Linked DNA regions of Homo sapiens: region 1 is linked to region 2. Evidence: fine-mapped expression QTL. A gene starts in region 2. The other region holds a variant in brackets. All regions are shown on one strand. Distances are between the middles of the regions. Region 1 holds the start of ZSCAN22 (zinc finger and SCAN domain containing 22). Region 2 holds the start of A1BG (alpha-1-B glycoprotein).

Region 1 (11,416 bases), 23 kb before region 2:
CACACACACGCAGAGTAAGCACACAGAACAACCCACAAACCTGGTCACAGAGTGACTCATGCAGACAGACGCCCAGCTCAAATTCAGTAAAAAATGATACACATTTATAAAAATGATTACATGTGTTCACAGAGAGCCACACATAGCTACACTCAATACACACCCTGACATAGGCAACCACACCGCTCACCTCTCACAAAGGCACCTTCAGTACTTACACAGACACTCACACCCACAAGCCCTCAGACAGGCACCCTCTCCCCTCACTCCTAACATGGGCACCCTCACCTCTCACCCAGGTACCCTTGTTACTGGTGGAGGGTGTCCAGGTTCTTGGCATCTTGAACAAATAATTGGACAAAATGCACAAAGAAAAGAATGAAGCAACAAAAGCAGAGATGTATTGAAAATGAAAGTACACTCCACTGTATGGGAGCAGGCCGGAGCATAGGGGCTCAAGAGCCCGGTTACAGAATTTTCTGGGGTTTAAATACCCTCTAGAGGTTTCCATTGGTTACTTGGTATATGCCCTATGTAAATGAAGAGGACGAAGTAAAGTTACAAAGTGATTTACTCCATGTACGCCCTGCATAAATGGAGAGGATATTTCCTACCATAGCTGCAGTTTCCATTTGATTTACTTCTAGGAAGTCCTTAGGTTCCCTGCCTCCAGACCCGATTTTCTTGCCTCACCCTTACCCCTCACCCCTCACACAAACACCCTCAGCCCTCCCAAAGCCACCCTCAGCCTCACACAGCCGCCCTCACCCTCAGCCTCACACAGGCACCCTCAGCTCTCACACAGGCACCCTCAGCCCTCACACAGCCGCCCTCACCCTCAGCCTCACACAGGCACCCTCAGCCTCACACAGGCACCCTCAGCTCTCACACAGGCACCCTCAGCCCTCAGCCCTCACACAGCCGCCCTCACCCTCACCCTCACACAGGCACCCTCAGCCTCACACAGGCACTCTCACCCTCAGCCTTCACATTTCCCTCACCTCCAAGTCCCGCCTTTCGCGCATCGCCTGCTGCTCTCCCACTCAGCGCCACCTCAGTCCCACAAAGGCCGGGCTGGGATCCTGTGGCCTCCGTGCTGACCAACGTCAACTACAATTCCCAGCAGGCACCGCGCCTGGGTACACTTGAGCTTCCGGAGGACGCCGGGAATTGTAGTCCTGGCGGGCGTGGGCCCTTGAGGTGTGCTGGGAGCTGTGGTCCGGGTCGGCGGGCGCGCAAGTTGGCTAGTCTCTGCGGCCACCTCCGGAAGGGTCCGCCGGCTGTGCTGGTGAGGTGGGTTTCGGGGGTGTTCTCCGTCCTGATCCAGGCTGGAGAGGGGCACAGCAGGTCCAGAAGCCGCGAACCTCTGGGGCGGCCAGAGCGAGATGCGGGGTACCGCCCAGCGGGTAGAGAGTGAGAGGCTGACTAGGGGACGTGAGTAGACGGACTGCGAGTGCCGGACACACGCGCAGAGGATGTGACGGACTGACGGACCAGGCGTGGACGGACCGTGTGTGCACGGACTGACGGACCCGGTGTGGACAGACTCACGGACCGAATGTGGTGCGGAATGACACACTGAGTGCCGGACGGACCGACGGAGAATGTGTCGGACTGACGGAGTGTGTGTCGGATGGACTGATTGACCGGGTGTGGGGCGGACGAAGTGTGGAGCGGGCGGACAGATAACAGATAAAATGTAGGACCAGTGGCCTGGGAGGGTGTGGGGCGGACCCGTTTATGTGTCTGATAGGCGGTTCTGTGTCTGACACCTCTTGGGTGTGTGTATCTGACGGGTTGGAGTGTGTGATTCTGATAGGTTGAGTGTAACACTAACCATGGAGTGTGTGACTGACAGAGATGGTTGCCGTTTGAGACTTCCTACGTGGGTTGTGAGATACTGTGAGAGGGTGAGCGTGTGACGGTGGGATTTCAAGTGTGACTGATTTTCTTTGTGTGTCCTTGAGATGGTGACTAAGATTATGAATGACTGTGATCAGAATAATACTGTGTGATGGAAATGCTGCGAGGGCCTGTGTTTATTTTTGAGACGGAGTCTTGCTCTGTTGCCCAGGCTGGAGTGCAGTGGCGCAATCTCGGCTCACTGCAACCTCCATCTCCCGGGTTCAAGCGATTATCCTGCGTCAGCCTCCCGAGTAGCTGGGATTACAGGCACCGGCCACCACACTTGGCTAATTTTTGTATTTTTGGTAGAGACGGGCTTTCACCATGTTGGTTAGGCTGGCCCGGAACTCCTGACCTCAGGTGATCCACCTGCCTAGGCCTCCCAAAGTGCTGGGATTATAGGCATGAGCCACCATGCCTGGCCAGGCCTGTGTTTATTTGACTGATTATAGGTGACATTGAGATATTTCCTGTGTCTGGGTATTTTGAAGGCTGTGGCTGACAGACTGTACCTGAGATAATATGTGTTAATATCTGATTGACTGAGATTTTTATCAGGGAGACTAAAACTTGGGTGATCCACAAACAGTTTACCAAGCATATGAGAGAGGATTTGTGCTTTGCCATGTCTGCAGCTGAAACTGAGTGACTAGTGGTCATTCAGCTGGGCTTATGGATATGTCCCCCAGTGTTTGCTTACGTGTAGCAGGGGGCTATGGTATCCATACATCTACTGCATGTTTACTGTGCACCAGGCCTGTGCTGGACACTTATAATAAATCACCTCACATAATCTCATAGCAACCCTCTGAGGTAGGTACCATTATCAGGCTTGGTATAATCCATGTGTGAGAAATGAAAAGAACCACCCTCCTTGGTTGGTAAAGCAGCTGTGGATGGGGAACCTCAACCTGATAGGAGTTGAGGTTGGCTGAGGAGGCTGAGGAAGTTTCACATACATGTATTTCAGAGACCGTCATGAGGGATTTCTCCAGAACAGGTGTTCCAGGGGTGCAAAAGAGAACTTGGAAGCTGTTGCAGCATCTATTGTCATCCCTGCCACCCTTGCTCCTCCTTCCCCTCATGATTCCCTACATTCTTGGGTAACCATGCTCAGCCTTTACTGGTCATTCCATTTGCTTAATGCCTGCTTATTGTGAACCTGCTATAGGGCAAGTCCTGTGTGCTGTGGCTCCAGGACAGCCCAGCCTCTCTGAGGAAACAGTACAGAACTAGCAAAGAGTTACCCAGGGCACTCTGGGAAGAGGACTTAGACTAGTACCAGGTATCTGGGATGACACCTGAGGAAAGTGGCAGCTAAGATGAGGCCTAGAGAGCCCAGAGGAATCCGTCAGAGACGGATTTCAGAACTCGAGA[G/A]CAGCAGGGGCGACAAGGGGCTTAGAAAGGCCACAAGAGACCCAGGAGAACTTTACAGTGCGGCGAAGGGGCTTAAACGCAGCTTGGCCAGAGGCCACCAGAGGTCACCAGCGGTCACCAAAAGGTTTCAGGATTGGGGTCTTGTTTTAGAGTAACGTTCTCTTCTTCCTGTGCCCAAGGCCATTGCTCTTTCTCAGGCCTCCTGCATCTCTGTCCAGGGTGACTTCCTTGAGCAGAGACTCCAGGCACACTGAGCGTCCTGGCTGACATTGAAGGAAAGGAAAAAGAACTCCAAATACTTAAAACTGTGGGAGTCGTGGATGGGAGAGGGAGAGGCTAAGTCTTTGAGTAAGGAGTAGTATGTGGCCAAAGCAAAGTGTCGAGGTCTCCTAGGAGAGGTTACACTTAATTTAGGGTATTCTTCCTGACTATAAGAGAAAACAAATTCACTGTGGGAAGTAGAGAATGTCAAGAAAAGTAATACAGTAGTCACCCCTCATCTTCAGTTTTGGTGAATATAGTACAATAAAATATTTTGAGAGAGAGAGAAAGACCACATTAATATAGCTTTTATTACAGTGTATTGTTATAATTGTTCTATTTTATTAGTCATTGTTGTTAATTTCTTACTATGCCTAACTTATGAACTTTATCAAGGGTATATAATAAGAAAAAAATATAGAATATATAAGGTTCAGTAATATCCATGGTTTCAGGCATCCACTGGAGGGTCTTGGAACACATCCCCTGCAGATAAGGGGGAACTACCATAGTATAAAATACCTTGGTAAGGATGTAGAGAAATTGGAACCCTCATCCACAACTGGTGGGAATGCAAAATGGTATAGCCAATTTGCAAAACAGCCTGGCAGTTTCTTAAAAAGTTAAGCATTGCCTACATGCGGCCAGGCGCAGTGGCTCATGCCTGTAATCCCAGCAATTTGGGAGGCTGAGGTGGGCGGAACATGAGGTCAGGAGATCGAGACCATCGTGGCTAATACGGTGAAACCCCGTCTCTACTAAAAGTACAAAAAAAAATAGCTGGGTGTGGTGGTGGGTGCCTGTAGTCCCAGCTACTCGGGAGGCTGAGGCAGGAGAATGGCGTGAACCCAGGAGGCAGAGCTTGCAGTGAGCCAAGATTGCGCCACTGCACTCCAGCCTGGGCGACAAAGCAAGACTCCGTCTGGAGAAAAAAAGAATTTTTTCAAAAAGAAAGTATTATCTCCCTCTGAATGTCGGTAGCACCCCCATCTAGAAATGGGGCTAGATTCTGAGAAGTAGAATTAATATTGAGGCAGAGAGCACAGTCATTTTAAAGCTCTTACAACATACTGCCAAATTGTTTGCCAAAGATATTCTAATTGATTGCCCTCACCAATAGTACATGAAAGTAGTTTTTTGCTGTCCCTGACCAGCATTCAGTGCTCACAGTTCTAGAATTTGGAAAGGCTTTGAGTGTGGAGGAAAGATCGCAGATAGCCTGAGCTCAAACACTAGCTTTGTTCCTACTGACCAGATGACTCTAGCAGCTGACTTTCCCCAACTTGGAAAATGGGAGTGGTAATACTGACTCACAGGGTGGAGCTAAGGCTTGAATGGGATAACAGATGCCAAAGGCTAGTGTGGCCTGGTAGCCGGTAGGTTCCCACTGACTGTCTGTTCCCATTTTCTTTTATTCCTGTTGCACACTATACCCATATCCATCATCATAATTATCTTATCATGTGTTGGTCGCTGTCCTTCCGTTGAGGCCATTGAGCCCAGCACCCATGCCTTCCCCGTATTTGCATTCCTAGTACAGTGCTGGGCACAGAGTAGGCACCTAATGGGGCTGTGCTGAACAAAAGTATTATTATTGATGTATGTGCCCAGCAATGCTGTAGACACTGGGGATAAAGCAAAGACCTAAACAAAAACCCCTGCCCTTAATGTGCTGATACTCCAACAGGGACAAGTAAATAATAAACAAGTAACCACATACGTGTATCACACATCAGGTGGTAAAGAGCAAATAAAGCAGTGTAGAAGCACAGAGACTTACTGATAAGGCGTCTTTTGTGTAGAGGCCTGACTTAAATAAGGGAGAGAACACCCAACAATTATCAAATGCACTTTTTTTTTTTTTTTTTTTGAGACAGAATCTCACTCTGTCGGCCAGGCTGGAGTGCAGTGGCACAATCTCTGCTCACTGCAACCTCCACCTCCCGGGTTCAAGCAATTCTCCTGTCTCAGCCTCCCAAGTAGCTGGGATTACAGGCCCCCGCTGCCACGCCTGTCTAGTTTTCATATTTTTAGTAGAGATGGGGTTTCGCCATGCTGGCCAGGCTGGTCTTGAATTCCTGACCTTGTGATCCACCTGCCTCAGCCTCCCAAAGTGCTGGGATTACAGGTGTGAGCCACCGCGTCCAGCTGACGTTATTATTATTATTATTATTATTATTATTATTATTATTATTATTATTTTGAGATGGAGTCTCTGTTGCCAGGCTGGAGTGCAGTGGCGTGATCTCGGCTCACTGCAATCTCCACCTCCCGGGTTCAAGAGATTCTCCTGCCTCAGCCTCCTAAGTAGCTGGGACTACAGGCACACGCCACCACGCCCAGCTAATTTTTTTGTATTTTTAATAGAGACGGGGTTTAATCATGTTGGCCAGGATGGTCTCGATCTCTTGACCTTGTGATCGGCCCAGCTTGGCCTCCCAAAGTGTTGGGATTACAGGCATGAGCCACCGTGCCTGGCCAACATTATTTTTTTAAAAGCTGTATTTTTATTTTATTTTATTTTTTGAGATGGAGTTTCACTCTTGTTGCCCAGGCTGGAGTGCAATGGCAGAATCTCGGCTTACTGCAGCCTCCACCTTCCAGGTTAAAGGGTTTCTTCTGCCTCAGCCTCCCAAGTAGCTGGGATTACAGGCATGCACCACCACGCCCGGCTGATTTTGTATTTTTAGTATAGATGGGGTTTCTCCATATTGGTCAGGCTGGTCTTGAACTCCTGACCTCGTGATCTACTCGCCTCGGTCTCCCAGAGTGCTGGGATTACAGGCGTGAGCCACCGCGCCTGGCCTCCAGAACATTTTTATCATCCCCAAAAGAAATTCCCAAACCTATTAGCAACCACTCTCATTTTTGTCTCTCTTCAGCCTCTGACAAACACTAATATGCTTTTTTTTTTTTTTTTTTTTTTTGAGATGGAGTCTACCTCTGTCGCCAAGGCTGTAGTGCAGTGGTGTACTCTCGGCTCACTGCAACCTCTGCCTCCCAAGTTCAAGAGATTCTCCTGCCTCAGCCTCCTGAGTAGTTGGGATTACAGGTGCCTGCCACCACACCCAGCTAATTTTTGTATTTTTTAGTAGAGACGGGGTTTCACTGTGTTGGCCAGGCTGGTCTTGAACTCCTGACCTCAGGTGATCTACCCACCTCGGCCTCCCAAAGTGCTGGGATCACAGGTGTGAGCCACCGTGCCCTGCCGTGTCTTTCTTCTTTTACTTAGCATCATGTTTTCAAGGTTCATCCATGTTGTAGCATTAATCAGTACTTCATTTCTGTTTATGGTGAATAGTGTTCCATTATAGGTATATACAGCATTTTATCCATTCATCAGGTGGACATTTGGATTGTTTCTCCTTTTTTGCTGTTATGAGTAATGCTGTTATGCACATTTATGTATAAAGTTTTGTGAGGACATATACTCATTTCTCTTGGGTCTATACGTAGGAGTAGAATTGCTAGGTCATGGGGTAACTCTGTTTAAGCTTTTGAGGAACTCCCAGACTGTACTTCCCACAGTGGCTATCCCATCTTACATTCCCAGCAGCAGCATATGAGGATTACAGTTTCTCCATATCCTTGCCTACACATGTTATCTGATTATAGGCATCCCAGCAGGTGTGAAGTGCTATCTCATTGTGGTTTTCATTTGCAGTTCCCTGGTAGCTAGTGATGTTAAGCATCTTTTCATGTATTTATTGCCCATTTGTGTATCTTCCTTGGAGAAATGTCTAGTCACATTCTTTGCTCATTTTAAAATTGTATTATTCATCTTTTTACTATGGAGTTGTTCTAGATACAGGTCCCTTATCAAATATATGATTTGCAAATATTTTCTCCCACTCTGTGGGCTGCTTTTTTACTTTCTTGATGTGGTCCTTCAAATCACAAAAGCTTTTAATTTTGATAAAGTCCAGTTTATTTATTTTTTCTTTTGTTACTTATGCTTTTGGTGTCATAGCTAAGACAGCTTTGCATTATTTTCAAGTATTCATGGAACATTAACCAAAATTAACCATACACTGGGTCACAAACCAAGTTTCAGCAAATTTTAAATGATCGAAATCCATTGTAGCATGTTTTCTGACCACAACAGACTTAATCTAGACATCAGTAATAAAAAGACAACTAGAAAACCCCCAGTTGTTTGGCAATGAAGCAGGAGAGTTTTAAATAAATAACCAATGGGACTGGGCATGGTGACTCATGCTTGTAATCCCAGCACTCTGTGGGGCCGAGGCAGGCAGATCGCTTGAGGTCAGGAGTTCGAGACCAGCCCCGCCAACATGGCAAAACCCCGTCTCCACTAAAAATACAAAAATTAGCCTCACATGGTGGTGCACACCTGTAGTTCCAGCTACTTGGGAGGCTGAGGCAGGAGGATTGCTTGAACCCGGGAGGCGGAGTTGCAGTGAGCCGAGATAGCGTCACTGCCCTCCAGCCTGGGCGACAGAGGGAGACTCCGTCTCAAAAAAATAAAATAAATTTTAAAAAATAATTAATGAGTAAGGTAGAAATTGTAACAGAAATTAGAAAATATTTTTAACTAAATGATAATGAAGATACAACATATCAAACTTGTGATGTATAGCTAAAGCTGTGTTTAGAGAGAAATTTATAGCCTTAAATATGTGCATTAGAAAAGAGGAAAGGCGAAAGTCAATTATGTATCAATCTCAAACACTACAAAATAATTAGCAAGTAAAGTGAGAGAATGACCATGTGGCTACCTGGGGAACAGAGGGAGAAAGACTTGGCTCTGTTGGGGAGGAGCACGCCTTAAACAGGCTGGCTGTAGGTTTGCGTGGGTTTGTAGCTTAGCTCTCTGTTAACCCTTCACTAGCTGAGGGACTTTGGGCAAATATTTTCCTCCTGAGTGTCTGTTTTTCCATCCATAAAATAGGTAGAAAGTCCCACCTCCTGAGTTTGTTGTAAGTTTTTTGTTTGTTTGTTTTTGTTTTGAGACAGAGTCTTGTTCTGTTGCGCAGGCTGGAGTGCAGTGGCGTAGTCTCGGCTCACTGCAAGCTCCGCCTCCCGGGTTCACGCCATTCTCCTGCCTCAGCCTCCTGAGTAGCTGGGACCACAGGTGCCCGCCACCACGTCTGGCTAATTTGTTTTGTATTTTTAGTAGAGACGGGGTTTCACCATGTTAGCCAGGATGGTGTTTGTTGTAAGTTTTAAATGAGTCTACATGCAAGCAGTAGTAGCTTAGAACAGTGCTCAGCACCAAGTGGGTGCTGTCCTAATTATGAGGATTGTCTATGTCTTTGTGAGAGTCTTTCACATCTCACGGGCCACAAGCCTGTGTTTTCCCTGCTCTGTAGGCATGAGGCAGGGCCCAGGTTCCATGTGATGCTGAAGCTCTGACATTCCTGCAGGCCCAGTTCCAAGGCTCCGGCATCCTGTGTCTCACTGAGCACTGCTGCCCGATGGCCATCCCCAAGCACTCCCTGAGCCCAGTGCCGTGGGAAGAGGACAGCTTCCTTCAAGTGAAGGTGGAGGAGGAAGAGGAAGCCAGCCTCTCCCAGGGCGGAGAATCCAGCCATGACCACATTGCTCACTCTGAGGCTGCACGCCTGCGCTTCCGGCACTTCCGCTATGAGGAGGCATCTGGTCCACACGAGGCCCTGGCCCACCTCCGAGCGCTGTGCTGTCAGTGGCTGCAGCCCGAGGCGCACTCCAAGGAGCAGATACTGGAGCTGCTGGTGCTGGAGCAGTTCCTGGGTGCGCTGCCCCCAGAGATCCAAGCCTGGGTGGGAGCCCAGAGTCCCAAGAGCGGAGAGGAAGCCGCTGTGCTGGTGGAGGATCTGACTCAGGTGCTGGACAAGAGAGGTAAAGGGGCGCCGTGGGCAGCTTCACGGCACACCAGAGATACACCCTGGACAGGAACATGGGAGCACAGGGCTCTGGTTTGGGGTTGCTCATGCACCCATTCTCACATTTGTACTTTACCGTAACTCTCACACACTGTTGTAGACAGGTGTGTTTTGGTTGCAGGTGACCAAAAGCGAGCTGAAATGGGCTGAAGCAAAGAAGGGTAAGGAGGCAGCAGATACGGCTATATCCAGAAGATCTGTTGACAGCATCAGAACTCTCTTCTTCCTCTCTTGTTCTGTTTCTCAGTTGGTTTTTTCTGTGTTAGCTTCATTCTTATTTTAGGTTCTCTTTCCAAAGGGGTTAAAGATAGCCAGGAACCCCAGGCTTATGTCTTACCAATGTAGAAACCCCGGGGTAATAACAATAAGAGGTCCCTGGTCTGAGCCCCCACTGGCCTGGTTGGGATCTTATGTTTGTGTTTGGCCAACCAAATCCCAGGGACTAACAGTGAGCAACTGGCTGTTTCTCAGAGGAAACCAGACGAGGGCCTGGGTGCCTGGGGTGGCTGTTGGGGGTGACGGAAATACCAGATGTCCCTGTGTACCTTCTCTATGCCCACCCTGGGCTGGCCTCCAGGATTTGGGTGGGTCAGACCTGCCCCAGGCTCAGCTGGGCACTGTTACTCACAGAGACCCACACAAACATCCCAACCCAGGGAGGTCCAGTGGGATGCAGGGAAGACCCAGCCTTGGGACAATCCAGAGCAGGGAGTGGTGGCTCGTCTCAGATGGGCTTGGCCTGGCCTATTGGCAACAGATAGGAGGTGGGCATACCACACACTGGGAGGAAACGTGCAGTGTGCAGGAGGAATGTGGAGTCTGGATACAGCTGCATCATCAAGGCTCAGTAGATCCAACCGCTGCTGCTCTTCCTGGCCATGTGACTCCCTTGTGCCTCAGTTTACTCATGGGTAAAATGGGGATTGTAATAAAAACGCCCACCTTAGTGGTGTTGCGAGATACAAGGCAATACCCGTGCAGCACCTGAAATGGTGCCTGGCACAGATTAAATAAATGGTAACTGCAACTGTTAGGATAATTTGTTCAGCTCTGGGAGAAACAGGCCTCTCTGGAACAGAGGTTGGTCTATGCCCAAGCAGATGTCACAGAGACAGGGAGAGGAAGGAGGGAGTGGCCCCATCCTCCCACAGGGTTGGCCAAAGCTCAGAGAAAGGGTAAAATGCAGAGGGAATGGTGGGGTCAAAGGCCTGGCAGTGTGATTTGCACTGGTGTATTCTGGTAAAAGCAGGTGGTGTGATGTTTCTGGATAGAGGAAGGAAGGGGGAGACAGGGCCAAGCAGATGGCTGGGGGAGCAGGGGAGACTGCCTGTGGACCTGGAGGAGAACATTCTGGAGCTGAAATCCCAACTGGGCCACTAGCTAACTGTGATCCTGTACCAGTTACTCAACACCTTCCCTCAGCTGGATTTCAGTTTCCCCATCTGCAACAGAATCACAGCAGTACCTCCTTCTGAGAGCAGGTCGAAGCTGAAATGAGGCGATGGAAGTCACCCACTGTGCTTGGGGCCCAGCACGACAAGAGCCTGATAGTGGTTAGTGGCCCTGGAAGGCCAGCGGCACAGCATCCATGGCTTACAGATGGGGAGACTGAGTCCCAGATGAGGGCAGGACTGATTAAGGTGGTAGACCTGGGGTTTGAGTCCAGTTTCTGCACTGCTGAGCCCCACTGTGGACTTGAGCAGTGGGTATTCCACCTGTCTCTGCCTCCTCCCTGGAATCCATCCAGTAGATGTGCCAGATTATGTGTCCTTTGCACCCATGCAGGGCAGGTCAGTGCGAGCATTCCTCTACCTCATGCACACTCTGATCTCCAAGAGCACCTCCGCCACACTCTGCCTTCATAGTACTTTACAATGTAGGGGCTTGAGAGGCCAGATGGGTACCTCATGTACTCACCCCCAGCAGCCATATTCTACCTGGGGTTCTACTTGCAGAAATTTTCACCATCGTGGGCTTCTGGATGGATT
Region 2 (15,980 bases):
TCTCCAGCCCCCCAGAGACCCCGGCCTTGTGCTGCAACAGGAGGGGAGGGAGCCAGTCCAGAATCCCCGGCACTTCTGAGGACACCAACAGCACCCTGGGCCCGCGGCTGCATCAGCTTTCTAGACAACGGGAGAAAAGAGAAATGGTGGAGGAGGGGAAATCCTATGCCCTCCTCCTCGCGGAAATCAAGGCCGACCTCCCTGACGCCCCCCCGGAAGGAAGCGCGTGGTCGGCTGCCAGCCGAGACCCCCATCTGCGCCTCCAGCTGCAGGGCCTTTGCTGGGCGGTTCCTCGCCCGCAATTCCCCCACGAGCCCTGGGGAGACCCAGCGCTAACCAGGGGTGCCCAAGGGAGGAGCCGGGAGAGGCCCTCCTGGAGGTGGGCACAGCCCAGGCAAACATCAGCAGACGGAACCAGCACCCGGGACCCAGGGAAACGTCACCTGCCACCAGGAGCTCCACAGGGTCGCTGAGCTCCGATTCGAAGGTGTGGGGCACCCAGGAGCGGTAGCGGCACCTGTAGTTGCCGGCGTGCTGGGGCCCCACGAAGATCAGCTCGAGGTTCGCCGCGGCCCCGGGGGTGCGGACCGTCTTCACGGCCTTCGTCTCGCCCTCGCGCAGCAGCTCGAAGGTGACGTCGGGGATGGGTCCCTCGCAGCGCAGGACGGCATCTCGGCCCGCCAGGACCGCCCCACTCCACGTCGCCCGGAGCTGAGGCCTGGGAGGGGGTCCTGGGCGGAGCGGGCGGGTGGTCGGGCCAGGCCACGCCCCAGGCCACGCCCCAGGCCACACCCCAGGCCACACCCCAGGCCGCGCCCGCGCCTGCGCCTCAGCCCCGGCTTCATCTTCCCTGTCTTGTTCCTGGGCGCAGAGGGCTCCTCCGGCGCCGCCGAGCTGCGCCCGCTGCCTTCACACCCCGGACATCCGCGCCACACGTGAGTGTCCCCGCACCCCTCCCCCAGGACCGTGGAAGTCCCAGATTCGGGCCTGCTCTGGGGCTTCTGGGGTCCCCAGCCTCGGTCACTCTGACGGGTGAAGGGAAGAAGAAATGATGGAGAAAACGGTGCTCCTTCATGGAGGGACCAAAAAAGGACATACAATCTATGTCAATAGATGAGGGTTTTCCCTCCATAAGTTTAACTTTAAAAGTGTATTTAAGGTGCCGGGCGCAGTGGCTCACACCTGTAATCTCAGCACTTTGAGAGGCCGAGGCAGGCGGATTGCCTGAGCTCAGGAGTTCCAGACCAGCCTGGGTAACACGGTGAAACCCCGTCTCTACTAAAATACAAAAAATTAGCCGGGCGTGGCAGCGTGCGCCTGTAATCCCAGCTACTCGGGAGGTGGAGGCAGGAAAATTGCTTGAACCTGGGAGGCAGAGGTTTCAGTGAGCCAAGATTGCGCCACTGCACTCCAGCCCGGGTGACAGAGTGACACTCCGTCTCAAAAACAAACAAACAAAACAAAACTGTAAGGAATCAAATGTTACAAAATCCTGGAAGATTTTGGTAATGCTGTTGATAATTTCAGGGAAATTAATGAAGTACATGTAAGTGCTTGATTTAAATGTGTATTTTATTCAATAGTTTGAGTATCTTGCCATGGAAGATACTAGCCCAGCCTAGCAGAAAAGTGCAATATGTATAATATACTTTCGCATTTTAAAAGTTATATTCCCTATCCATTTTGAAATGCTAGCCAAACTACATGAAGTTATTTGCAATTAATTGTAAGCTAATCAGGAATTTTGAAAGCTTGATTGGATTAACAAACTATAATGTTGAAATTTGGTAAAATCATAATGTTAATTTTTACTGTGAAACGTTTTCTTGTAAGATAGATATACACATCCTAGTTTAATTTTGTGTCTTAGTGTGGATTTACAAATTTACTACAGTTATTCTGAGCCCAGGAACCCAATCAGATTTCAGGCCAGTTTGATACTGGCTGTTCTTAATTCTAACAGGAGAGTAGGACATCATACTAAATGTTATGTCAGTGGGACTGTGTTGTCTTTGGAGCTTAGTAAATTAATCATTTTCTTCAGACTTTAAGGAGAGTGATAAATAAAATTTGGAGTCATAGGATATAGATGTACAATTTAAAGATTAAACATTTTTTTTTTTTTTGAGATGGAGTTTTGCTCTTGTTGCCCAGGCTGGAATGCAGTGGCATGACCTGGACTCACTGCAAACTCCACCTCCCGGGTTAAAGCAATTCTCCTGCCTCAGCCTCCCAAGTGGCTGGGATTACAGGCATGTGCCACCACAGCTGGCTAATTTTGTATTTTTAGTAGAGACAGGGTTTCTCCATGTTGGCCAGGCTGCTCTTGAACTCCTGATTTTGTGATCCACCCGCCTTGGCCTCCCAAAGTGCTGTGATTACAGGCGTGAGCCACCTTGCCTGGCCAAGATTAAACATTTTTCATCAATTGTGGATGGTGGCTTATAACACTGCAAGAATAGGCTGGGCATGGTGACTCACAAGTGTAATCCCAGCACTTTGGGAGGCAGAGGCGGGCAGATCACAAGGTCAGGAGGTCAAGACCAGCCCAGCCAACATAGCAAAACCCGGTCTCTACTAAAAATACGAAAATTAGGTGGGCATGGTGGCATGCGCCTCTAATACCAGCTACTCAGGAGGCTGAGGCAGGAGAACTGCCTGAACCCAGAAGGCGAAAGTTGCAGTGAGCTGAGACTGCACCACTGCACTCCGGCCTGCAAGAATAAAAGTAAGTTATCCAAAAAAAAAACAAAAAGGAGAAGAAAAGGGAGGAATGAAGGAGAGAGATGGGGTTGGGGGGCAGAGATGAGAGAGAGAGAAAGAAGAAAAAAGAAGAAAGAAAAGAGAGAAAGAAGGAAGGAAGAAAGAAAGAAGGAAAGAGAAAGAAAGAAAGAGGAAGGAAGGCAGGAAAGAAAAGAAAGAAAGTGAAAGAAAAGAGAAAACGGTGCTCCCAGCAAAGGGTACGACCTCAAGATCTGGAGGTCAGACCTGTGCCCTCACGCTCTGCTGGGCTCTGAGTCCTGGAGACGTCGATGAGGAAATCAGAGGGACAAACAGAGCTGGGGACGGCGGGGATGGGGAGAAGGACACATCAGCCGTGCGCCTGCGGGACCGGGGCCGGGGCGGGGGGTCCAGTATGACGACTGACATGGCCAGTAATAAAACAAGGCAGCCACAGAGCTGCAGGGATCTGAACAAGAAAACCTGGGGCCAGCCTCCCTGCTGCCGACCACCACGCTACACGTGACCTACGGGCTTGCGTCCGTGGGAAATAAGCCGAAATTCCAGGCGTCCCCAGACCCTCGACCACCGATCGCCTGCTCCCCGCCGGGGTAGGCGATGGGGGCTGAACCAAGGCCCAGAGCGCCGCCGTCGGACGCCCAAGGAAAGAGGGGAAAGACAGGAGGCCCCGAGGGGCACTGAACCCGCGCCCGCCCTCGCTGGTGCCCCGCCAGCTCACCGTCCACGTGCAGCTCCAAGCGCTCGCTGGGCGCGGAGCCCCCGAAAGGCGGCTTCAGGTCCACGTAGACGCAGCTGTAGTTGGCGGAGTCAGCCACGGAAATGTTGTGCAGCTCGAAGAGCGCCTCGGTCCCAGCGGGGCTCTGGAAACGGTGCACGCGGCGCCCGCCCCTGTCCTCGCGCACCAGGGCGAAGCGCGCGCCCTCCAGGGGCGCCAGGCACCGCAGCCGCAAGGCCCTGCCGGACTCCGGCTCCGGGGAGAACTCCGGCGCGGGCAGCGTCTCTGCGGAGCAGCACACGGGCTGACCCGGGCGCCCAGCGGCTGGCTCGGCCCTAACGCGTGGTCTGGCCTCGCGCTCTTTGCCTTGGCTGAGTCTTCTGCCCGCAATGACCTGGCCAGCTTCCTCCCTCGCCTCCTCCGGGCCCGCCCCACCTTTGCATCCCAGTCCTTGGATATCTCACACGCACCCTTTCACTGTTTCTTAGTAATTTGTTTGTCTACAGACACAGACGGGAAGCGGGGACGGGGACATGTTTTGTGCATGGCTTGATGCCTGGTGCACGATGCCGCTCAGTAGTGGATTTGCTCCACGAGCGTCTTCTGAGCACCGCCCCAATGCCCGCCCCACGGAGGGGCCCCTGTGGTCCGCTGGGCATGGGGTTCGCTGTCCGGTGCTCAGAGTTTGCTAAATACCATCAGGTCCAAGGCAAGCGAGCGGAGGAGCTGCCTCAGCAGAGGCCCTCAGTGCTCACCTAGACCTGGCAGCTGGGATGGGACCTGCCAGGTGGTGCCCCCTGTGGCCTGGGCCAGACCTGTTCACCCAGTTATTCCCTGTGGGGCCTGAAGGTTGTCACGCTCATCATCATATTTGCAGTTTAGGACCCTGAATCGGCGGGTGGGCGGATAAAGTTGGTATTGGACCCTGGCCCAGAGCACTGCACTTCCCCAGACTCTACACCTGGTACTGCTCCTGCTCCCCAGGGACCCAGCCGCGTCCCTGTCCCTGCTGGCCCCGGCTCACCATCGCTCAGAATCAGCTCGACCGGCGCGCTGTCCCCGGACCAGCCGTTTTGGTTGTCATGCAGCCGGTAGCGGCAGGTGTAGTGACCTCCATCCCCCAGGGCCACCGCGTTCAGGTGAAAGAAGATGCGATCTGGGCTGGTGCTGCTCCTGGGTACCAGCAGCTCTTTCTCCCCGCGCCGTAGCTGGAAGTCCACTCCACTCAGGGGAGCCACGCAGGTGAGGGTCACCTTGTTGCCAGGGTGCAGGACCTGGGAGGACTCTCCATGGTGCATCAGCACAGGCGGTGGTGGTGCAGCTGCAATGCAGGCAGCATTACTAGGCTGCCCCATCCCTGGAGCTGCCCTCTGCCCAGTCCCCAGACCTCTGCCCTCCGGGTGGCAATCCCAGGAACACCCTTCCATTCTTTTTTTTTTTTTTTTTTGAAACGGAGTTTCGCTCTTGTTGCCCAGGCTGGAGTGCAGTGGCGCCACTCAGCTCACTGCAAGCTCTGCCTCCCAGGTTCAAGGGATTCTCCTGCCTCAGCCTCCTGAGTAGCTGGTACTACAGGCACCTGCCACCACACCTGGCTAATTTTTGTATTTTTAGTAGAGACGGGGTTTCGTCATGTTGGGTAGACTGGTCTCGATCTCTTGACCTCATGATCCGCTGGCCTCAGCCTCCCAAAGTGCTGGGATTATAGGCGTGAGCCACCGCACCCGGCCTCACCCTTCCATTCTTTGGGCATCCTCTGCCCAAACTCCTTTGCAACCATCAGACCCAGGCAACCGTGTGGCCAGCTTCCTGGACCTGGTCCTGGGCAAGGACATTCAGCATGGAGGTCAGGATGAATGTGGTCATGCCCCCTGTATCCTCCTCCCCCAGCAGCCCCCAGAGATGGTTCCCACAGTCACCGAGCTCCTCAATGGTCACAGTAGCGCTGGGCTCAGAGAGGGCGCCTTCCCCATCGGTCCGGTAGCTGCAGCTGTAGTTGCCAGGCTGATGGACTGGAAAGGTGGCCTCCACATCCTCCTGGGCCTCAGGCACCTCCAGAAACTCATGGTCGCCCTCCCGCCTCAGCAGAAAAGTCACACCCCGCAGCACACCTCGGCACACTGCTGTTGTTTTCAGGCCGGGGGTGATCCAGGACACTGGCGCCATCGAGAGCCAGGGAGCAGGCAAGGACTCTGTGGGTGGGGTGGAGTTGAAGAGTGCTTCTGCATAACAGGAGACGTGGGAAGCCCAGCAGAACCTGGGCCCCACACTCATAAGACTGTGAAGGAGACAGGGATGGAGGGCATTGCTGGGAAAAGGCAGGCAGGCACCAGTGGAAACAAGGCATACGGCAAGAGAAAAAGAGTGTGTGGGAGCTGTACGGCATGCCGGGCCTGCTGGGGACACAACCATGTATTCCTTACAACACAGACATCATCCCCATTTGACAGATGGGAAGATTGGGGCTTGGGGCTCAGAGACATCGGGTGACTTGGAGGAAGGGAGACCCCCCAGTCAACAACCTACCCACTGCCTCCTGGCCCCCAATTCATGCCCCGGCTCACTTGGCCCTGTCAGCTCCAGGAGCTTGCTCAGCTGGGTCCATCCTGTGGACAAGCCCGAGCGGCAGCGGTAGCGGCCCTGGGTGTCACCCGTCAGCAGGAACTGGTGCTTGATGGCAGGTGAGTCAAGGTGCACAGGCTCCTGGGCCACCCCATTCTTGAACAGCTGGAAGTCTGGAGTCTCCAGGTGGGCCTGGCACGTCAGCGTCACATTGGCCAAGGGTTTCAGCAGTGATTCGGACTCTGCCCACAGGCTGGGCTGCGTCTCATAAACTGCAAGGGGTGGCTGGGATCAGCTCAGTGCCACAGAGACAGGGCTCCCCCCCGGCCTGGGCCCACCATTCCCAGACCTCACCCCTGCACTCACATATGGCTGCTTCTGTCACTGGGCCCCAGGTGACACCTGCGGAGACAGCCCCCGTAAGGCTCCTGTTCCCGCCCCCTCCCGCCCCAGGGACCCAGACCCCAGGAGGCCTCACCCCACAGCAAGAGAAAGACCACGAGCATGGACATGATGGTCGCGCTCACTCCGGTGCAGTGAGTGTCTGGGGTGAGCGTCTGCAGCAATGAGGCCCCAAGGGAGGGCGGTGGGGTGGCTCGGGCACTGACCTCTTCCCGTGTTTGTCCTTCCCGGAAGGCGGGGGCAGGGCCCCCATGGGGTCAGGGCAAAGGGTGAACTTCTGAGGCCTCAGGATGCCCAGCAACAATTATAATCAATAATCATGTATGATTAATAAACTAAATCAAGAGTGATAAAATGATGTTAAAACCACCTCATCCTCATTTCAGTGATGGATCCTAGAACCTGTTCTAGAAGGAGACGCTGAGTTCTCCCCACTCTACCTGGAGCTGCTGAGGTCAAGTGGAGAGTGCCGGGGCTGAAGCCCAGCGAGCCCCTCCCTGTCACACCACACTGCACATGTGACACCAAAGGTGGGGTTCACCTCTTTTCAGACTTTCTGCGGTTGCCCTCACATGGGCTGTCTGGAGGTGCACCCTCACTCTTCCTGAGGACTGTGGTTCCTTCTCCATCACTGGTTCATTCTGCATGGTGTGACCCACCACGGCTCTGGAGTCGGATTTCCACCCAGGTCATTCAGCTGAGACCTGCGCTTCCCAGGCCTACCCGTGACATGTGCTCAGTTACCTGAGCTGCTGGTGGTCACTCATGTGGCTATAGCCTGCTGCCTGGAGGCCAGGCCTCCCGCTTCCCCTGCCTCCCCCTCTCCTCACCACAGCCTGTTGGGATGGAACAGGACAGGGGTGAGACCGTGGTGCTTTCACACTCAGCCTCCATGGACATCCTGTCATTCCCACCCGGGGAGGTCTGGTCCCCACCCTGGGTGTCCCAGCCTAGCTCCGCTACGAGTGTGAGGGCCCAGGGCAACCGCCTAGCCCTCATCTGCCCCCTGCACTGCATCCTCCCCACTCATTCATTCCACAGGCATTTATTGAGCATCTACTGTGTGCCAGATGCAAAGAAGACAGTGGGATAACTGGGCAAGGAGCATTCCAGGCAGAGGGAACAGCCAGTGCAAACATGGGAGATGCGGGTGCAGTGAGAAGGAGCAGAGGAGACCAGGAGTTGAGGCGACTGCAGAGCGATTGCAGAGCTCATAGACGTGATGAAGACCAGCTGGGCACTGCAGCGGCTCTGGCTTCTGCTGTGAGGGACGGGGAGCTGTGGAGACTCCCTCTGTTTGGTCCCATTTCCATATTGCTGAGCACCTGCTGCATGCTCTCTGTCCTGCTCAGAGCCAGTACCTGGATGGAGGCTGTGTGTTCTGGGTGGACTGGGGGAGAATGCATTCTTTGCAGAAGAGACAACCAGGTGCTGAGGCCTGAAGTCATAACCAGACCTGGGGCACTCAGACAAGGACTGGTGGCCAGGCCAGAGGAGCAGAGCTCAGGGTGTGCACAGAACTCAGAAGTCAGACCACTGAACAGTGACAGAACCTTTCAGCCCATTGGCAATGAGGCTGCCCAGGCAGCCAGAGGCCTGGTCAAATCTGAGGTCTGCAGAGATGGAGCTGTCATTCTGTGTTTCCTTTGGCAGTCCCAACACCAGCCTCGTTGCACCCTCCTCTTAGCTTCCCTGGGTTCTCCAGCCCTAAGGGTGGTAGCAGCTTCCTGCAAGTATCCAGCTCTGAGATTCTGCAACATCCACTTTTGCTCTCTGAGCCTTGCAAAACCTGCACAATCAGTCCCTAACTTATATCCCCTCTGTTTGAAATACCTAGTGTGGTTTCTATTTCCTGACTTGACTCTGACTGGTGTGGTACTTGGTATAAAGAAGGTTCCCTGGCCAGGTGCGGTGGCTCACGCCTATAATCCCAACGCTTTGGGAGGCTGAGGCAGGAGGATCACTTGAGCCCAGGAGTTTTGAGACCCGCCTAGGCAACATGGTGAGACACTGTCCTTACAAAAAATTTTAAAATTAGCCAGGTGTAGTGACGCAAGTCTGTCATCCCAGCTGCTTGGGAGGCTGAGGTGGGAGGATCACCTGAGCCTAAGAAGTCGCGGCTGCAATAAACAGTGATTGCACCACTGCACTCCAGCCTGGGTGACAGAGTGAAACCCTGCCCCCTCCCCCAAAAAAGAAAAGTCCCATGAAACAGACCTACACAGGTGAGATTCTGAGATTGATCTGGTTCTGACCTCGGTCAGGAATGCAGTGCTGAGCTTCTTGCCAACAGAATATGAGACACTAGAAAGCCATAGCATGCGGTTTCATCATGTTTAACTGTCACCTGTGGTTGCCTGAGATGAAGTGCTGACTGAAGCGAGCACCTTAGGAGACACAGTGGCCACTGCACTGAGCAGCTGGTAGCAGCAGTGGTGACCATGTGGACTGGGGGGTGGGTTGGCTGCTTTTGACAGTGCCAGAGAACTCAAAGAAATAGCCACACCTGTCGGAGACCCCAGTTCTTGCCCACCTCTGCATGGACGAACCTCTCGCCGAAGTGGAGCCTGCCGCCCTCCCTGGGGTAAGAGCCCATCCTACATGTCCCCAGACAGGCCTGGGTGGCCGGTGGACTATCGTCAAAGGGACTGTGCAGCCAGGGTTCTCCACACCCAAGGCCGCCCCTGCACTCCCAGCAGGAGGGCGCCCGCACCGGCGGCCCGAAAAAGTCTGGGCCAGCAGACAGCGCACTCACGCCCGAGACCCCGCAATGCCGTGTGTCCGCGACCTCCCGCTCAGGGCGTCCTCGGGTCAGGGCGCAGCGCGGCCCCCGTGCCGCTTCTGGTGCTCGTTGAGGTTGCAACGGTGGCTGAAAGGCTTCCCGCACTCGCCGCAAGCGTAGGGCCTCTCGCCCGTGTGCGTGCGCCGGTGGCTTAAGAGCTCCGACTTGCGCACGAAGGCCTTGCTGCAGTGGGCGCAGACGAACGGCCTCTCGCCAGAGTGCAGGCGCTGGTGCTGGCGCAGCTCGGAGCTGCCGCGGAAGGCCTTGCCGCATTCTGCGCAGGCGAAGGGTCGCTCTCCCGTGTGCGAAAGCCGGTGGTGCGCCAGGCCGGAACTGCCGCGGAAGGCCTTGCCGCAGTCGGCGCAGGCGAAGGGCTTGGCGCCCGAGTGCGTGCGCCGGTGGCTCAGTAGGTTGGAGCGCTGGCTGAAGGCCTTGCCGCACTGGGCGCACGCATGAGGCTTCTCGCCCGTGTGCACGCGCCGGTGCTCCGCCAGGTAGGAGCCCATGACGAAAGCCTGGCCGCACTCGGCGCACTCGAAGGGCCGCTCACCAGTGTGCGTGCGCTGGTGCTGCAGGAGCTGCGAGCTCTCGCGGAAAGCCTTTCCGCACTCGGCGCAGGGGAAGGGCTTCTCGCTGCTGTGCGTGCGCCGGTGCTGCCGCAGCCCCGCCACACGCACGAAGGCCTTGCCGCAGTCGGGACAGGCGTGTGGCCGTGCGCCCGCGTGGATCTTCAGGTGCTCGGCCAGGTTGGAGCTCTGGCTGAAGGCCTTGCCACAGTCCCGGCAGGCGTGCGGCCGCGCGCCCGTGTGCACGCGCCGGTGCTCCAGGAAATTGGAGTTCCAGCTGAAGGCCTTGCCGCACTCCGGGCACTCGTAGGGCTTCTCGCCCGTGTGCGTGCGTCGGTGCTGCACCAGCGTGGTGCTTCGGCCGAAGGACTTGCCGCAGTCCGGGCAGCGGAAGGGCTTCAGGCCGCTGTGTGTCTCCTGGTGGTGGATGAGCTGCGAGTGCGCGCGGAAGGCCTTGCCGCACTCCCTGCAAGCGTAGGGCTTCTCGCCGCTGTGGATGCGCTGGTGCTGGCTGAGGTTGGAGCTCCAGGCGAAGGCCTTGCCGCACTCGGGGCACGTGTACGGCTTCTCGCCTGTGTGCACGCGCCGATGCTGCAGCAAGTAAGAGCCCTGGCTGAACGCCTTGCCGCACTCCCCGCACCGGCAGCCCGGCTCCTCTGGGAGAGGCGAAGGGCGCAACGCCCGGTCTGCAGGCTCGCTCCTGGGCCCAGCCCCGTCCCGCCCACCGTCTGCGGGGCCCAGCTCCCTGCCGGGGCCTCCCTGTTCGTCCGCCGCCCCCAGTGTGGCTTGCTGCCGCTGGCCGTCCCCTGCCTCCCTCGGAACCTCCGTGGAGTTTTCCCAGGCCCCCCAGCCTCCAGACACAGCCCCCTCAGAGAGGCCCCTCGTGGCAGTCTTCACATTGCAGAGGACCTGGCCTTCCTCTGGGGCCACCTGCAGGGTCCACCCTCTTGGGGACTCCATCTCGCGCCTGTGACCTAAAACAGGAGAGAAAAGGCAAGTACCTTAGAGAATACAAAGAACACCAGACAGAGGGCCTGAGGGGGACACGACGGTGGGTGGGCTGTCATCCCCCACTCTTCTCCTCCAGGTCCCTGGATGCCCAATGCCCTCTGGAGCCTGGAGCAGGAAGGCCAGCAGGCGGGCTAGACACTCGGGGGATGGGCCAGCACTCTGGGCCTGCCTGACAGGGCCACGTGCACATCCCCACACCCGGCCCGGCCCAGCAGGAGGGGAGGGGGCGCCAGCATCGCAGAAGGACTCAAAGTTGCCCACGCACCTGCACTGGCCCTACTGTGGCACCACTCTCCTCTCCTTGCTTCACAGGGTGGGGCCCCAAGTGTCAAGAAGGTGGAGACTCCAGTTTGTGAGGAACACGATGGACCCGTCTCCATTCCTGAAGGCTGGAGGACACCGCCTGACCCAAACACAGCTATGTCTGCCTCACCCACTCCACCCTGGCCGGATCCCTGGGTAGTCCCCTCCACACAGTATGGGCAGCATGTCCAGGCTGGAGGATCTCAGTGGCTGTTACCCAGGCAATGTCCACACCAGGCCTCTGTGCAGGTCAGACCAGGTGGTCCAAGGCATGGGGTGGCTGTGCAGCCCAGATCCCTGAGAGAGAGAGAGGCCAAGGGTGGGAGGGCCTCCTTGGTCCTAAGGCCATGCCTGCCTGTCCAGCCGATCCTTCCCACAGCGAAGTCTCTACAGCGAGCAAAACCCATCCTCATTTGCCCTGAGCACCTTATCATCCTTGTGTAGTCTCCAGCCCCGCTGCCAAGGCAGGGCAGGGACAAGTGTGTAGATGGTGCCATACCTGGAGGTGGGGCCTGGAAGGGGCCCAGGGGAGCCTCTTGCTCCTCTCCCTCCTCTGTCCTGGGGACCAGCTCCTCTTGGGGCCTGGGGGCTGGCACCTGGGGACAGGAAGGCAGCAGGGCAGGGTGAGGTGTTCAGCCTAGCAGATCTGAGAAAACAAGGGGCATGCGGTGGCATGACCCACCCTTCTCTGCACCTTCAGTTCTCAGGACACAATGCGGAGCACACAGGTGTGGACTGGAGATCTCTGACTCTGCCGTCCAAGCCAAGACCACCAAACTCCCACCTGTCACCATCACTTTCCCACAGCCCCCAGGCCCTCTCAGCCACCAACCCACGACTGGCCCCAGTGCTGGCTCAGCTGGGGTCGTGAGCAGGGGAAGCACACCCAGCCCCCAGACCAGCCCCCACTCATCTGGAGTCCTGGCCCAGCTGACTCCTGCTGTAGCCGCTCTGCCAGGGCAGTGGCCTCCTCAGGGCTGCCTAGCCACTGCTCCTGCGTGTAGGCCTGGATCTCTGGGAGCAGTGTGCCCAATAACTGCTCCAGCACCAAGAGCTCCAGCATCTGCTCCTTGGAGCAGGCCTCAGGCATCAGCCACTGGCAACACAGCTCACGCAGCTGAGCCAGGGCCCCTCGGGGCCCTGCTGCCTTCTCATAGCAGAACCCCCAGAAGCACTGGCCAGGGCTCTTGGAGCTGGGCTCACCCACCATCAGTTCCAGTGGACTCGGGAAGACCTGGGGGGCCAGGGCTGATGCCTCACTCATCTGGGCAGCCATCCTGCCCCTTTCCTGGGAGGGGAGTGCAGCTGCATGGCCCAGGGTACTTTCTCTGCAGCTGGAAACACAAAGGTGAGCCTGTGAGCACAGCAAGGCCACGAAGGTCCCCTCCTTGGGACCACCTGAGACTGAGTAAAAATGGAAGAATGGGGGTATCGGCGTTTCTGGCCCCCAGTGTCAGCATCTTTGCCCACCTGTGTGTCCAGGTGCCTGAGGGACACACTGAGGTGCCATGGCTGCTTGTACCATCCCTTCCCCCCGCCTCCCCGCTTTTCTTGAGGGTCCCTGCCCTGCCCTGTCTCCTTGGCACCCTTCATCCCACACACAGAACAACTAAGACAGAGACTGTGAACAGGACACCCAGAGTCAGACCAGCAGATGGGTCCTGTTTGTCCCCTCCAGGAAGTGTTTTAAAAATTTAAGTTAGGCCAAGTGCGGTGGCTGACGGCTGTAGTCCTAGCACTTTGGGAGGCCGAGGTGGGTGGATCACGAGGTCAGCAATTCCAAGACCAGCCTGGCCAACATGGTGAAACCCCGTCTCTACTAAAAATACAAAAATTAGCCAGGCGTGGTGGCAGGCGCCTGTAATCCCAGCTACTCGGGAGGCTGAGGCAGAGAACTGCTTGAACCCGGGAGGTGGAGGTTGCAGTGAGCCGAGATCGCGCCACTGCACTCCAGCCTGGGTGACAAAGTGAGACTCTGTCTCAAAAAAAAAAAAAAGAGAATAAATACTGATACATACTACAAGATGGATGAATCTTGAAAATATTATGCTAAGTGTAAATGAAAAAATTCAGACACAAAAGACTTCATATTATGTTATTCCATTTATGTGAAATGTCCAGAACAGATAAGTCTGTAAGAGACAGAAAGTAGATCAGCGGTTGCCAGGATCTGCAGGGAAGAGAGAAATGGGAGATACAGCCGTGGGAGTGATGAAAATATTCTGGAATTAGTGGTGATGACTGTGCAACACTGAATATACCAAAAACCACTGAATTACACACTTTAAAAGGATGAATTGTATGGTATTTATGTTTTTTAAAAAAGTTACCACCCAATCCCAAAAGCTTAAAAACTGTATGACTCCATTTCTTTTTCTTTTTCTTTTTTTTTTTCTTTTGACAGGGTCTGGCTCTGTCATCCAGGCTAGGGTGCAGTGGTGCAATCTCATCTCCCAGGCTCAAGCCATCTTCCCACCTCAGCCTCCGAAGGAGCTGGGACATCAAGTGCGTGCCACCATACCCAGCTAATTTTTTTATTTTTTATTTTTCTATTTTTGAGACGGAGTTTCGCTCTTTCACCCAGGCTGGAATGAAGTGGCGCAATCTCGGCTCACTGCAACCTCTGCCCCCAGGATTCAAGCGATTCTCCTGCCTCAGCCTCCCCAGTAGCTGGGATTACAGATGCCTGCCATCAGGCCTGGCTTATTTTATTTTATTTTATTTTATTTTTTAGTAGAGATGGGGTTTCACCATGTTGGCCAGGCTGGTCCCGAACTCTTTTTTTTTTTTTTTTTTTTTTTTTTTTTTTTTGAGAAGAGTCTTGCTCTGTCGCCCAGGCTGGAGTCCAGTGGCGCTATCCTGGCTCACTGCAAGCTCTGCCTCCCGGGTTCATACCATTCTCCTGCCTCAGCCTCCCAAGTAGCTGGGACTACAGGCGCCTGCCACCATGCCCGGCTAATTTTTTTATATTTTTGGTAGAGCCGGGGTTTCACCGTGTTAGCCAGGATGGTCTCGATCTCCTGACCTCGTGATCCGCCCGCCTCAGCCTCCCAAAGTGCTGGGATTACAGGCGTGAGCCACGGCACCCGGCCGGTGGGCCGGTCCTGAACTCTTGACCTCAGATGGTCCACCCGCCTCGGCCTCCCAAAGTGCTAGTATTACAGGCGCGAGACACCTCGCCCAGCCTATGCAACATTCGTAAAATGACAAAATGGTAGAAATGAGAACAGATTACTAGTTGACAAAAAGAGGTTAACGGGGAGCAGAGGTAGGAGGGAAGGGTATGCGGCTCTGTAAGGGCAACACGGGGATCCTTCGTGATGGAAATATTCTGCATCTCAGTTGTGATATTGTACTCTAGTTTTTCTTTCTCTTCTCTTTTTTTGAGACAGAGTCTCGCTCTGTTGCCCAGGTTGGAGTGCAGTGGCGTGATGTGGGCTCACCGCGACCTCCGCCTCCTGGGTACAAGCGATTCTCCTGCCTGAGACTCCCGAGTAGCTGGGATTACAGGCACCAGCCTCCACACCCGCCTAATTTTTGTGTTTTCAGTACAGATGGGGTTTCACCATGTTGCTCAGGCTGGTCTTTAACTCCTGAGCTCAAGGGATCCACCCGCCTTGGCCTCCCAAAGTGCTGGGATTACAGACATGAGCCACCGCACCTGGCCTCTAGTTTTTCAAGATGCCACCTTTAGGGGAATTGGGTAAAGCGTACATAGGGTATGCATTACTTGTTACTGCATGTGAATTTATAATTACCTCAAATCAAAAGTTAAATTTTAAAAAAACGACATCTGATTTCAATAAAAATCCATATTTGTGTATTGAAGTATCAGAAATCCGGGTCCCCCAAGGGCCCATGTTTCTTAAGGCGGAGCCAGGCACCGCTGCCCCTCCATCCTGTGGTGTGCGACCCCGACCCGCCAGCCCCCAGCCGCATCTATCAGGGCTGCCGTCCTGAGTCCGTCCTCGTCGTGGGATAGCATGTGAGCCCCGTAAGGTCCTTCCTGTCGGCCTCACTGCTCCAGCCTCCCCGACGTCCTCACGTCCACGCTGCGTGCCCTTTCTGAGCCTCAACGCCTCCTCCTCACCTCGACATGATCAGAGCCACCTCCCGCGTCAGTCCCAGCGCCCACGCCCCCAACAACGGGCACTTGTCCGACCAGTCACGGGTACTTGTGTCTCCCCCACAACCCCCAAGGCCTAGGCTGGACAAACAAATACGGAGTGGATAAAGGGGAGGAAGCTGCGGCCAGGTGGCGCGAGGCCTGTGCGGGCAGCTCCGGAGGCTGGGAGGCGAGCCCAGCCTGGTGAGCTCCGAAACTACCCGGGGCTGGGGACTGATGAACGAATAAATGAATGTGGGAAGAAATGATGGCGCGGCAGGGCATGAGTGAATGAGTGAAAGAATAAACGAGCAGGAGGAACGATGCCACAGAACTGATCGCCATAAGGCTCGCGTTCACCGAGAGAACAGCAAACGGGAGCCATTTCCGTCCCGACCACGGTCGCCTCTGGCCCGTGCAGGGCCACTTCCGGGCCGCTCTGGACGGCGCGGAGGCCTATCTCTCGGTGGTCCCAGAGGGCCCAGCTCAGGGCCGAGGCCCGTCCTGCCCCGCGCGGCGGGAGTGGTTGGAGCCGGAGGGCGGATCTGTGCCTGGCCGAGGGTGTCCGTCGGCGTCACTCACCGTCCTCGGCCCGCCTCTGCGTCCACTAGGAGCGGCCTGAAAGAGGCCCGCACGCGGGCTCGAGCCGCGTGGAATGGTAGGAGGGCGGGCACCGGGTCTCCTGGGGGCGCGGTTGCATTCGGCAGAGCGGCCCAAGGCGTCGCGTTTCTCCCCACTGCGCCTGCGTAACTATGCCGCGGCTGCGGGCGCGCGCCTTCTGGTTCCCATGGGGAC

Evidence for each region. PIP is the estimated chance that this variant, and not a neighbour inherited with it, causes the effect.
Region 1: its variant is fine-mapped to the expression of A1BG in whole blood (TOPMed, PIP above 0.99).

What each region holds. Positions count from the first base shown.
Region 1 is chr19:58,325,822-58,337,237 of GRCh38, forward strand. It overlaps ZSCAN22 (zinc finger and SCAN domain containing 22), which reads left to right and starts at 1,173. Exons shown (of 3, transcript NM_181846.3): 1 at 1,173-1,293; 2 at 8,931-9,384. The coding sequence starts at 8,982. It overlaps LOC105372480 (a long non-coding RNA gene), which reads right to left and starts at 1,427. Exons shown (of 3, transcript NR_144444.1): 1 at 1,002-1,427. MIR6806 (microRNA 6806) reads left to right here and starts at 8,867; the gene lies at 8,867-8,930. RefSeq lists enhancers at 1,058-1,800, 1,144-1,473. The variant G/A (reference allele first, on the strand shown) is at 3,283.
Region 2 is chr19:58,346,910-58,362,889 of GRCh38, forward strand. It overlaps A1BG (alpha-1-B glycoprotein), which reads right to left and starts at 6,583. Exons shown (of 8, transcript NM_130786.4): 1 at 6,495-6,583; 2 at 6,383-6,418; 3 at 6,019-6,288; 4 at 5,374-5,646; 5 at 4,482-4,778; 6 at 3,461-3,742; 7 at 444-731; 8 at 1-120. The coding sequence starts at 6,528. The coding sequence ends at 113. It overlaps ZNF497 (zinc finger protein 497), which reads right to left and starts at 15,842. Exons shown (of 3, transcript NM_198458.3): 1 at 15,768-15,842; 2 at 11,580-11,676; 3 at 7,448-10,740. The coding sequence starts at 10,726. The coding sequence ends at 9,230. A1BG-AS1 (A1BG antisense RNA 1) reads left to right here and starts at 5,061. Exons shown (of 4, transcript NR_015380.2): 1 at 5,061-6,135; 2 at 6,470-6,565; 3 at 6,805-6,948; 4 at 7,460-8,274. ZNF497-AS1 (ZNF497 antisense RNA 1) reads left to right here and starts at 15,717. Exons shown (of 3, transcript NR_136527.1): 1 at 15,717-15,843. It also overlaps the pseudogene LOC100419840. RefSeq lists enhancers at 1-385, 53-332, 386-886, 1,103-1,182, 15,129-15,677 and 1 more and a silencer at 583-912.